2 linked regions of the Homo sapiens genome follow. The protein of the gene in region 1 interacts with the protein of each later gene in a pairwise test. Each region holds a gene or a part of one and is shown on either strand. Other genes may lie near its edges.

Evidence for each region. The genes of interacting proteins can lie anywhere in the genome.
Region 2: the proteins of ANKS1A (region 1) and KLHL26 interact in a two-hybrid assay, tested with the Homo sapiens proteins (one large-scale study listed by BioGRID).

Annotation. Positions count from the first base shown.
Region 1 is NC_000006.12:35,011,255-35,014,754, reverse strand, and holds part of ANKS1A (ankyrin repeat and SAM domain-containing protein 1A), read right to left. Parts: intron 1-3,500. UniProt on the Homo sapiens protein: Regulator of different signaling pathways. Regulates EPHA8 receptor tyrosine kinase signaling to control cell migration and neurite retraction.
Region 2 is NC_000019.10:18,664,528-18,668,926, forward strand, and holds part of KLHL26 (kelch-like protein 26), read left to right. Parts: intron 1-2,873; coding exon of another isoform or gene 2,874-2,916; exon of another isoform or gene 2,917-3,049; coding exon of another isoform or gene 3,050-3,136; coding exon 3,137-4,399. UniProt on the Homo sapiens protein: May play a role in endo(sarco)plasmic reticulum (ER/SR) mitochondrial signaling. May be part of the ubiquitin-proteasome system (UPS) and affect ubiquitination and degradation of target substrates in cardiomyocytes.

The DNA of each region.
Region 1 (3,500 bases):
GTAAAAGGAGCACAGGCTTCTACTGCTTTGTATCAACTTCCAGCTTCATATTTAACAACTGGGAGCTAAGGCACCAACAATGAAAGGAAACACCACAGCTCAGAACTGGGGGCCAGCCTGGCTCACACTGCCTGGGTGGACCTCAGAACCCAGGCCACAGAGAATGTTCTAACTGCTGCTGTGGGAGCCAACAATGCAGGCCCTGTGAAACAGCCACCCATTCATGCTAGCTATCAATGATGAAAGAGAGACAGATGCCAAGGGCTCAATACCAGACACATGCCAAGGGGAAGGAAGTGGGTAGAAGGAAAGAATGGAAACTTACGGAGGAAGGAAATATGTGGAGGAAGAATCTCTGAGGGTCATAATCCTATTAGAGAAACCACAATCCACCAATATTTTGTGGAATATAAGAAATGATGGAAAGAAATTCTTATAATCATATGACTTAGCCAGGCAATTCCTAAGAAAGACACTTTGGTATCTGAAAAGCTTGCCGAGATCCAAGACCCTAAGGCTGGTGTTCTTGTTCCCATTAAAAACTACATCCAAGGCCAAGATGAGTTTTTTTTGGCAGATCAATGGGTGGGAAAAGAATTACTCAATGGTTTCTTCCTTCTGCAAAGTAAGGATAATATAAGGTCTCTTAGGGACAAGGTGCTAACAATAGAATATACTGATCAAGAAGCAGTTTTTAAGCAAATCACTTCTTTGTGCAATTCTGGGATCTTAATTGGGGGATTGTTGCGGTAATTAAATTATACGTGTAATGCATTAAGAACCGTGTCTAGCACATGCCACGCTCTCAATAGATGTTGAAATTGTTATTATCCTCCACACAGGGTCCGTTACAACACACTTTGCTCACAGATGAGACCAACTACTTCTCCGTTCCTCACAGGTCTGTCACAAGGATCATCAAAGATAAGGTACATGAAAGTACTCTGTAAGATATAAAGCACTTCACAAGCATTCATTACCTTCACCATCCTTATAACTCTGAACAGCAGAAGGAAGGGACAGAAGGTAATATGGTGAGAGGGCTGAAGTGAGAAACTCTGAGACAGGCCCCAGAACTGTCACTGTAACCACTCATCCCATGGACAAATGTATGAAGTGTCTGTCCTCAGGAGGCACCCAGGTGGATATGAGGATAAAGAGGCCGGGTGTGGTGGCTCACGCCTGTAATCCCAACGCTTTGGGAGCCTGTGGTGGGAGGATTGCTTGAGCTCAGGAGTTCAAGATCAGCTTGGGCAACATGGCGAGACCTCATCTCTATAAACAATTTAAAAATTAGCTGGGTGTGGTGGTGCACACCTGCTGTCCCAGCTACTTGGGAGGTTGAGATGGGAGGATAATTTGAGTCCAGGAATTCAAGGCTGCAGTGAGCTGTGATCATGCCACTGCACTCCAGCCTGGGAGACACAGCGAGACCTTGTCTCACCAAAAAATAAAAAATAAAAAAAATAAAGACACCAAGTCTGCCTCAATAGATGCTTTAAGACAGGCATAAATCATATGCTTGGCAGACAAAAAGGAAAGCCTGATTACTTCGAACCAGAAGGCTTCTCAGAAGAGGTAGCTTTCGAGCTGAGCACTGAAGGAGAAATAAGACCTTGTCAGGCTTACAGAGAAGTAAAAATACATTAGAAAAGGCAGAGAAGGGCCAGGTGTGGCAGTACATGCCTGTAATCCCAGCACTTTGGGAGGCTGAGAGAGGAGGATCACTTGAGCTCAGGAGTTAGAGACCACCCTGGGCAACAAACCTCACGCCCAGGGACTAGTGAAGTTGCAGAAGAGACCCTTAGGCCTTTCTCCTACACTACTTCCCATGTTCCCCGAGCTCTGCCCTCCCCACAGTCTGCCCTTCTAGGAGAGAAACAAGGAGATAGTGGCACACAGGGAGGGAGGCCTGTTTCTTATGCTACCCATACATCGAGGCCAGCTGTTCTACTCAATATGGCACACCAGCATGCTAATTCCCAATCCCATCAACTTGTGATCCTCATTCATTTTCCTTATACCCTGTGAGCTACTGAAGCAAGGGGTCTTCTGTGCTGCATTTTAATTACTACGATGAGCTATGGGATCTCAAGGGCTTTTGAATAATAACACTTCAACATTTACACATTTTCATTCACCTCTGCCCACTTAAATTAAGGCTAAAGAATGCAGCTCATGTGAGGAGTTGCTAATTCAAATCTCCCCTCAGGCCCAGAGAAGAAGGCTGGGGGACCCAGTGTCTCATATTGTTTTGTGTTCTCCGTATCATTAGGATTGGAATCCTCCAGCTGCCTAGTCACTATAGTGAGCATCAAAAACCATGGGTGTGCAGGAGAACTCCCAAGTACATGGCTGCTTTCAGAGGGTCACCAGGCTCTTCCTGGAAGGAAGGTCCTGACCAAGTTATTCAGACACTTGCTGAAGACTGCAATTTGATAAGACAAATAGACTGAGAGTTCATTTTGGTCCACGGCAACCTGAGAAATAGAATAAGAGCTAGACAGGGATTCAAGAAGCCCATGTTTTAGTTCCAGCCCCGTGACTTTTCCTCTCTAGGTCTCTTTCAAAAAATGAATGCCTGGGATGCATTCTCCAGGGCTTTGGGATTTAGGCTAGTTTGAATCTGTGATTAAAGGACCTCTCTATAGTCCCTACCAGTTCTATGATGTTAAGAACATGAATAGCAGAAAGGCTTTTGATGAAATGGTTTTAGCCTCATGGTTAAAAGTACAGGCTTTGGATTCAGTCACACTAGGGTTTAAGTCTCAGCTCCAATACCTAACCTTTTCTTCCTCAGCTCTGAAACAGGGACAAAAATAGCCCCTACCCTGAAGATCTGTCACAAGATATACAATGACATAATCAACATAAAGGAAATCAGCATGGCAGCTGGCCCGTGGGAAGCATTCAGTAAATGATAGCTGCTATCATTATCACCATTTTTCATTTACAGTCATTTCTGAACTCTTAGCTCATCATGCTAACACTGCACAGAGAGGCTGGTTTCCCTTCTCCTGACTCTGCAAAGGAGACTGATTTATTCTGAGTAGCCCTTTTAAAGAGGCAGAATAAAACTCAAATGCCAGGGAAGGCCAGTATTCTTATAAGTTTGGTTTGGGATTACATGTAATAGCACAGTGGAGAATCTTCAGATTAGGAGCCATCTGTACTCACCTTGGGGCCCATAGGTATAGCCCAGCTTTGGGACTTCGGACTGTTTCACATTGACTTGGTCTTGATTACCTCATTACATCTCCCCCTTCTTCTTGAACTCCTAAAGCGTCTGTTCTCTACCTGTCATTGGACCTCTGACCTCTGGCCCCCAAACTTCCCTAGTTTTCAATATACCAGCTTTGCCTGGATCAGCTTCCAACCAGCCACGATTTCTAACCATGCCTAATTTAATAGCATATTTGCTGTCTTTGCTCCCCTTGATCTTCTGCCAGTTCTTGTAGTGGGTATTCATAGCCATTTGCTTTCTCTTCTCCAGTTGCTGG
Region 2 (4,399 bases), on another chromosome or scaffold:
GCCTGTCTCAGCGCTACCCAGGGACAGCTTCGAGGGAGAACGGCTGGTACCGGCTGCTCTTTTTTTTTTTTTGAGATGGAGTCTCGCGCTGTTGCCCAGGCTGGAGTGCAGTGGCACAATCTCGGCTCACTGCAACCTCCGCCTCCTGGGTTCAAGCAGTTCTCCTGCCTCAGCCTCCCGAGTAGCTGGGAGTACAGGCACCCGCCACCATGCCCAGCTAATTTTTTTTGTATTTTTTAGTAGAGACGGGGTTTCACCATGTTGGCCAGGCTGGTATTGAACTCCTGACTTCGTGATCTGCCTGCCTTGGCCTCCCAAAGTGCTGAGATTATAGGCGTGAGCCACCGCTCCGGGCCCCTTCTGATTTTAGAGAGAGGTTTAATGTCCAGTAAACCTGCAGGTTTCCCGGAGTTTGCATCTTACTCTCTTTGGGCAGAACATGCCTGGAGGGACAGAGATGGCCTGTGGGCACCCACTCACTTCTACCCTGCATGCAGGGTGGCAGGGCTTGGCCAGGTTTTTGATCTGTTTTGTTTTTTTTTTTTTTGAGACAAAGTCTCGCTGTGTCGCCCAGGCTGGAGTGCAGTAGCACAATCTTGGCTCATTGCAACCTCCGCCTCCCGGGTTCAAGCGATTCTCCTGCCTCAGCCTCCCGAGTAGCTGGGACTACAGGCGCATGCCACCACACCTGGCTAATTTTTTGTATTTTTAGTAGAGACGGGGTTTCACCATGTTAGCCAGGATGGTCTTGATTTCCTGACCTCATGAGCCACCTGCCTCAGCCTCCCAAAGTGCTGGGATTACAGGCGTGAGCCACTGCGCCCAGCCCAATCTGTCTTTACTTGACGCCTGCTGTATGCCAGGCACTATTCTAGTCCTTGGGATGCAGCAGGGATGACAGTGAAATGGGCACAAGCCCCTGCCCTCAGGGCATCCCCTCAGGACACCTGGAGCAGGACAGCTGGGGGACTGGAGGGGCATCGAGGGCCGCAGAGACCCTGTGTCTGCCAACACCATGTCCTGGGCTCTGTCTGAGGCCCAGATGAGTTCTCCTCCCTGTCTCCCTGAGCTGTGGGCACTTCCCCAACGTGACAGAAGAGGCCATGGCGGGCACTGTCTGTCTGTCCCTGTGCCGTGGCCGGGCCGGAAGTGAGAGCACCACAGAGCAGGGCTGTGGGGTGGGGGGTGCTTTCTCCTCGCCAGCTGGGGGCTGTTGCAGGGCTGAGTGGTCTCCCTCCCTGGGTGACCAGCAGGTGAGCCTCCTTCCTGCCAGGTGGTGACCCCGCCAGAGAGAGCTGGGCCGCCCTGGGGAGGCTCCCAGGCCCCAGCCCAGGTGTGCCGCTCAGCCACACATTCCCCGAGGCCCGGGCCGCCTGCCCCATGGGCTCAATGAGGCTGTTGTGGGGGCCGCAGCAGCCGAGCCAACTGGGGCGCCGCTTCTATTTTTATTCTGGATTTGGGGACGGGTGGGCCAGCCCAGCCAGCAATGCCCTTTAAAGGCTCCCCTGTGCTGGCACTGCAGCCAGCGAGACCTTAAAAGGCAAAGCTCCCTCCTGTCGCCTGCGACCGCCTCTGCCTTCATCGCATCATGCCCGAGGGCCAGCGTGGACCCGTGGGGACAAGCGGGGCAGGGTCTGGGGAGCTGGCAGCGTACTTACTGCTCCTGGACCGCTCAGAGATGCTGAAGAGCTGCTTGTTGGGCAGATGTCAGTGGGCGGCCCCGAGATAGTGCCCTGGCAGCTGTCCTTGCCCCTGTAGCCCTGAGCCTGGCTCACAGGAGGTGCAAGACTAGGGGACAGGCCTCTGTGGGTCAAATGCACAAGGGATGTTCCCTCCTCCTCGGACGGCCATCAGGGGAGGTGCACTGGCAGGAGTGAGAGTTACTATGCCATGCCATTGCGCCTCCTGGAAGGAACCGCCCATTCCCCTGGAGCTGGGGTGCTCTCCCCTCTTCTGCTGGGGAACACCCTAAACGCTGTAGGGGAACTGTGACCTAGAACCGTGTGCCTCCCCGCTGCCCTCCCTCACGGGGGCCTGTGTCCCCTCCCACTCTCATGTTCTGCCTCGCAGAGCACAGCAGTACAAGGGCGGAGCTGGGGTCTCAATGGAGGCTGGGGACGTAGCTGTTGGGTGGGAGGTGCTTCCCCGACCACCTGAGCCTGTCTCTGGAGACAGCAGTCACCCCAGCACAGCCTCCTGGTGGGGGCTCCATTCCTGGGGACCCTCATTACCTTCCCCTCTTCACATGATGGTTGTTGAGACTCAGGCTGGGCATATCAGAGCTGCCTGCTTAGGTCAGTGAACAAGGTGAGGGTTGAACTGTGGTGCATGGCACCTCCAGAGCACTGGCCTTGCAGTTCCTGAGCTCAGGTGTCAAGTGGGGCTGCAGATCTGTCCCCAGAGCCACAGGGTGTGTTCTCATCCTGCACTGCCATACCTGGCCCCTCTAACCGCACCCCCGACAGGCACATTGTGGGTGAGGCTGACCCGGGCCACCGCTCCTGCAGCTCCAACACGATCTAGTCATGAAGGGGCAGGGGCAGGGTCCTCTGCAGAGGGGCCAAGCAGGGAGTTGCTATTTATAGGAAGATGCATGGCTTGGGTGGATTCAAAATCTTTTTTTTTTTTTGCATGTTTTTTTTGTTTGTTTGAGACAGAGTCTCACTCTTATTGTCCAGGCTGCAGTGCAGCATGATCTCGGCTCACTGCAACCTCCAGGTTGGTCTTGAACTCCTGACATCAGGTGATCCACCCACCTCGGCCTCCCAAAGTGCTAGGATTACAGGCGTGAGCCACTGTGCCTGGCCTTTGCATGTTTTTGTTTGTTTGTTTGTTTGTTTGTTTTTGTGACTGAGTCTCACTCTGTCACCCAGGCTGGAGTGCAGTGCCAGTGGTCTCGATCTCCTGATCTCATGATCCACCCGCCTGGGCTTCCCAAAGTGCTGGGATTACAGGCATGAGCCACCGCGCCCGGCCCCTTTGCATGTTTTTAATGAGCATTCCGCCTACTTTCCTCTTGCTGGCTGTGCCCTGTGTTCTGTGTCCCCAGGCTACTGTTCCCCAGGCCAGATCATTCCTGGCTGGCCAAAACACCCCTCAGCCACTGCCAGCCACACGTTGTGTTTCTGCCCTTCAGGGCCATGTTCACCGGCGGCATGCGGGAGGCAAGCCAGGACGTCATCGAGCTGAAGGGCGTGTCGGCCCGTGGCCTGCGGCACATCATCGACTTCGCCTACAGCGCCGAGGTGACACTGGACCTGGACTGCGTGCAGGACGTGCTGGGCGCGGCCGTGTTCTTGCAGATGCTGCCCGTGGTGGAGCTGTGCGAGGAGTTCCTGAAGGCGGCCATGAGCGTGGAGACCTGCCTCAACATCGGCCAGATGGCCACCACCTTCAGCCTGGCCTCGCTGCGAGAGTCGGTGGATGCCTTCACCTTCCGGCACTTCCTGCAGATCGCCGAGGAGGAGGATTTCCTGCGCCTGCCACTGGAGCGCCTGGTCTTCTTCCTGCAGAGCAACCGGCTGCAGAGCTGTGCCGAGATCGACCTGTTCCGCGCGGCCGTCCGCTGGCTGCAGCATGACCCGGCCCGGCGGCCGCGCGCCAGCCACGTGCTCTGCCACATTCGCTTCCCGCTCATGCAGTCGTCCGAGCTGGTGGACAGCGTGCAGACGCTGGACATCATGGTGGAGGACGTGCTGTGCCGCCAGTATCTGCTGGAGGCCTTCAACTACCAGGTGCTGCCCTTCCGGCAGCACGAGATGCAGTCTCCGCGCACCGCCGTGCGCTCGGATGTGCCCTCGCTCGTCACCTTCGGCGGCACGCCCTACACCGACAGCGACCGCTCGGTCAGCAGCAAGGTCTACCAGCTGCCTGAGCCGGGAGCCCGCCACTTCCGCGAGCTCACGGAGATGGAGGTAGGCTGCAGCCACACGTGCGTGGCCGTGCTGGACAATTTTGTGTACGTGGCCGGGGGGCAGCACCTGCAGTACCGCAGCGGCGAGGGCGCAGTGGACGCCTGCTACCGCTACGACCCCCACCTGAATCGCTGGCTGCGCCTGCAGGCCATGCAGGAAAGCCGCATCCAGTTCCAGCTGAACGTGCTGTGCGGCATGGTGTACGCCACGGGCGGCCGCAACCGAGCCGGCAGCCTGGCCTCCGTGGAGCGGTACTGCCCCCGGCGCAATGAGTGGGGCTACGCCTGCTCGCTGAAGCGCCGTACCTGGGGCCATGCTGGGGCCGCCTCAGGGGGCCGCCTCTACATCTCGGGTGGCTACGGGATCTCAGTGGAGGACAAGAAGGCCCTGCACTGCTACGACCCCGTGGCCGACCAGTGGGAGTTCAAGGCGCCCATGAGCGAACCCCGCGTGCTACACGCCATGGTGGGTGCCGGCGGCCGCAT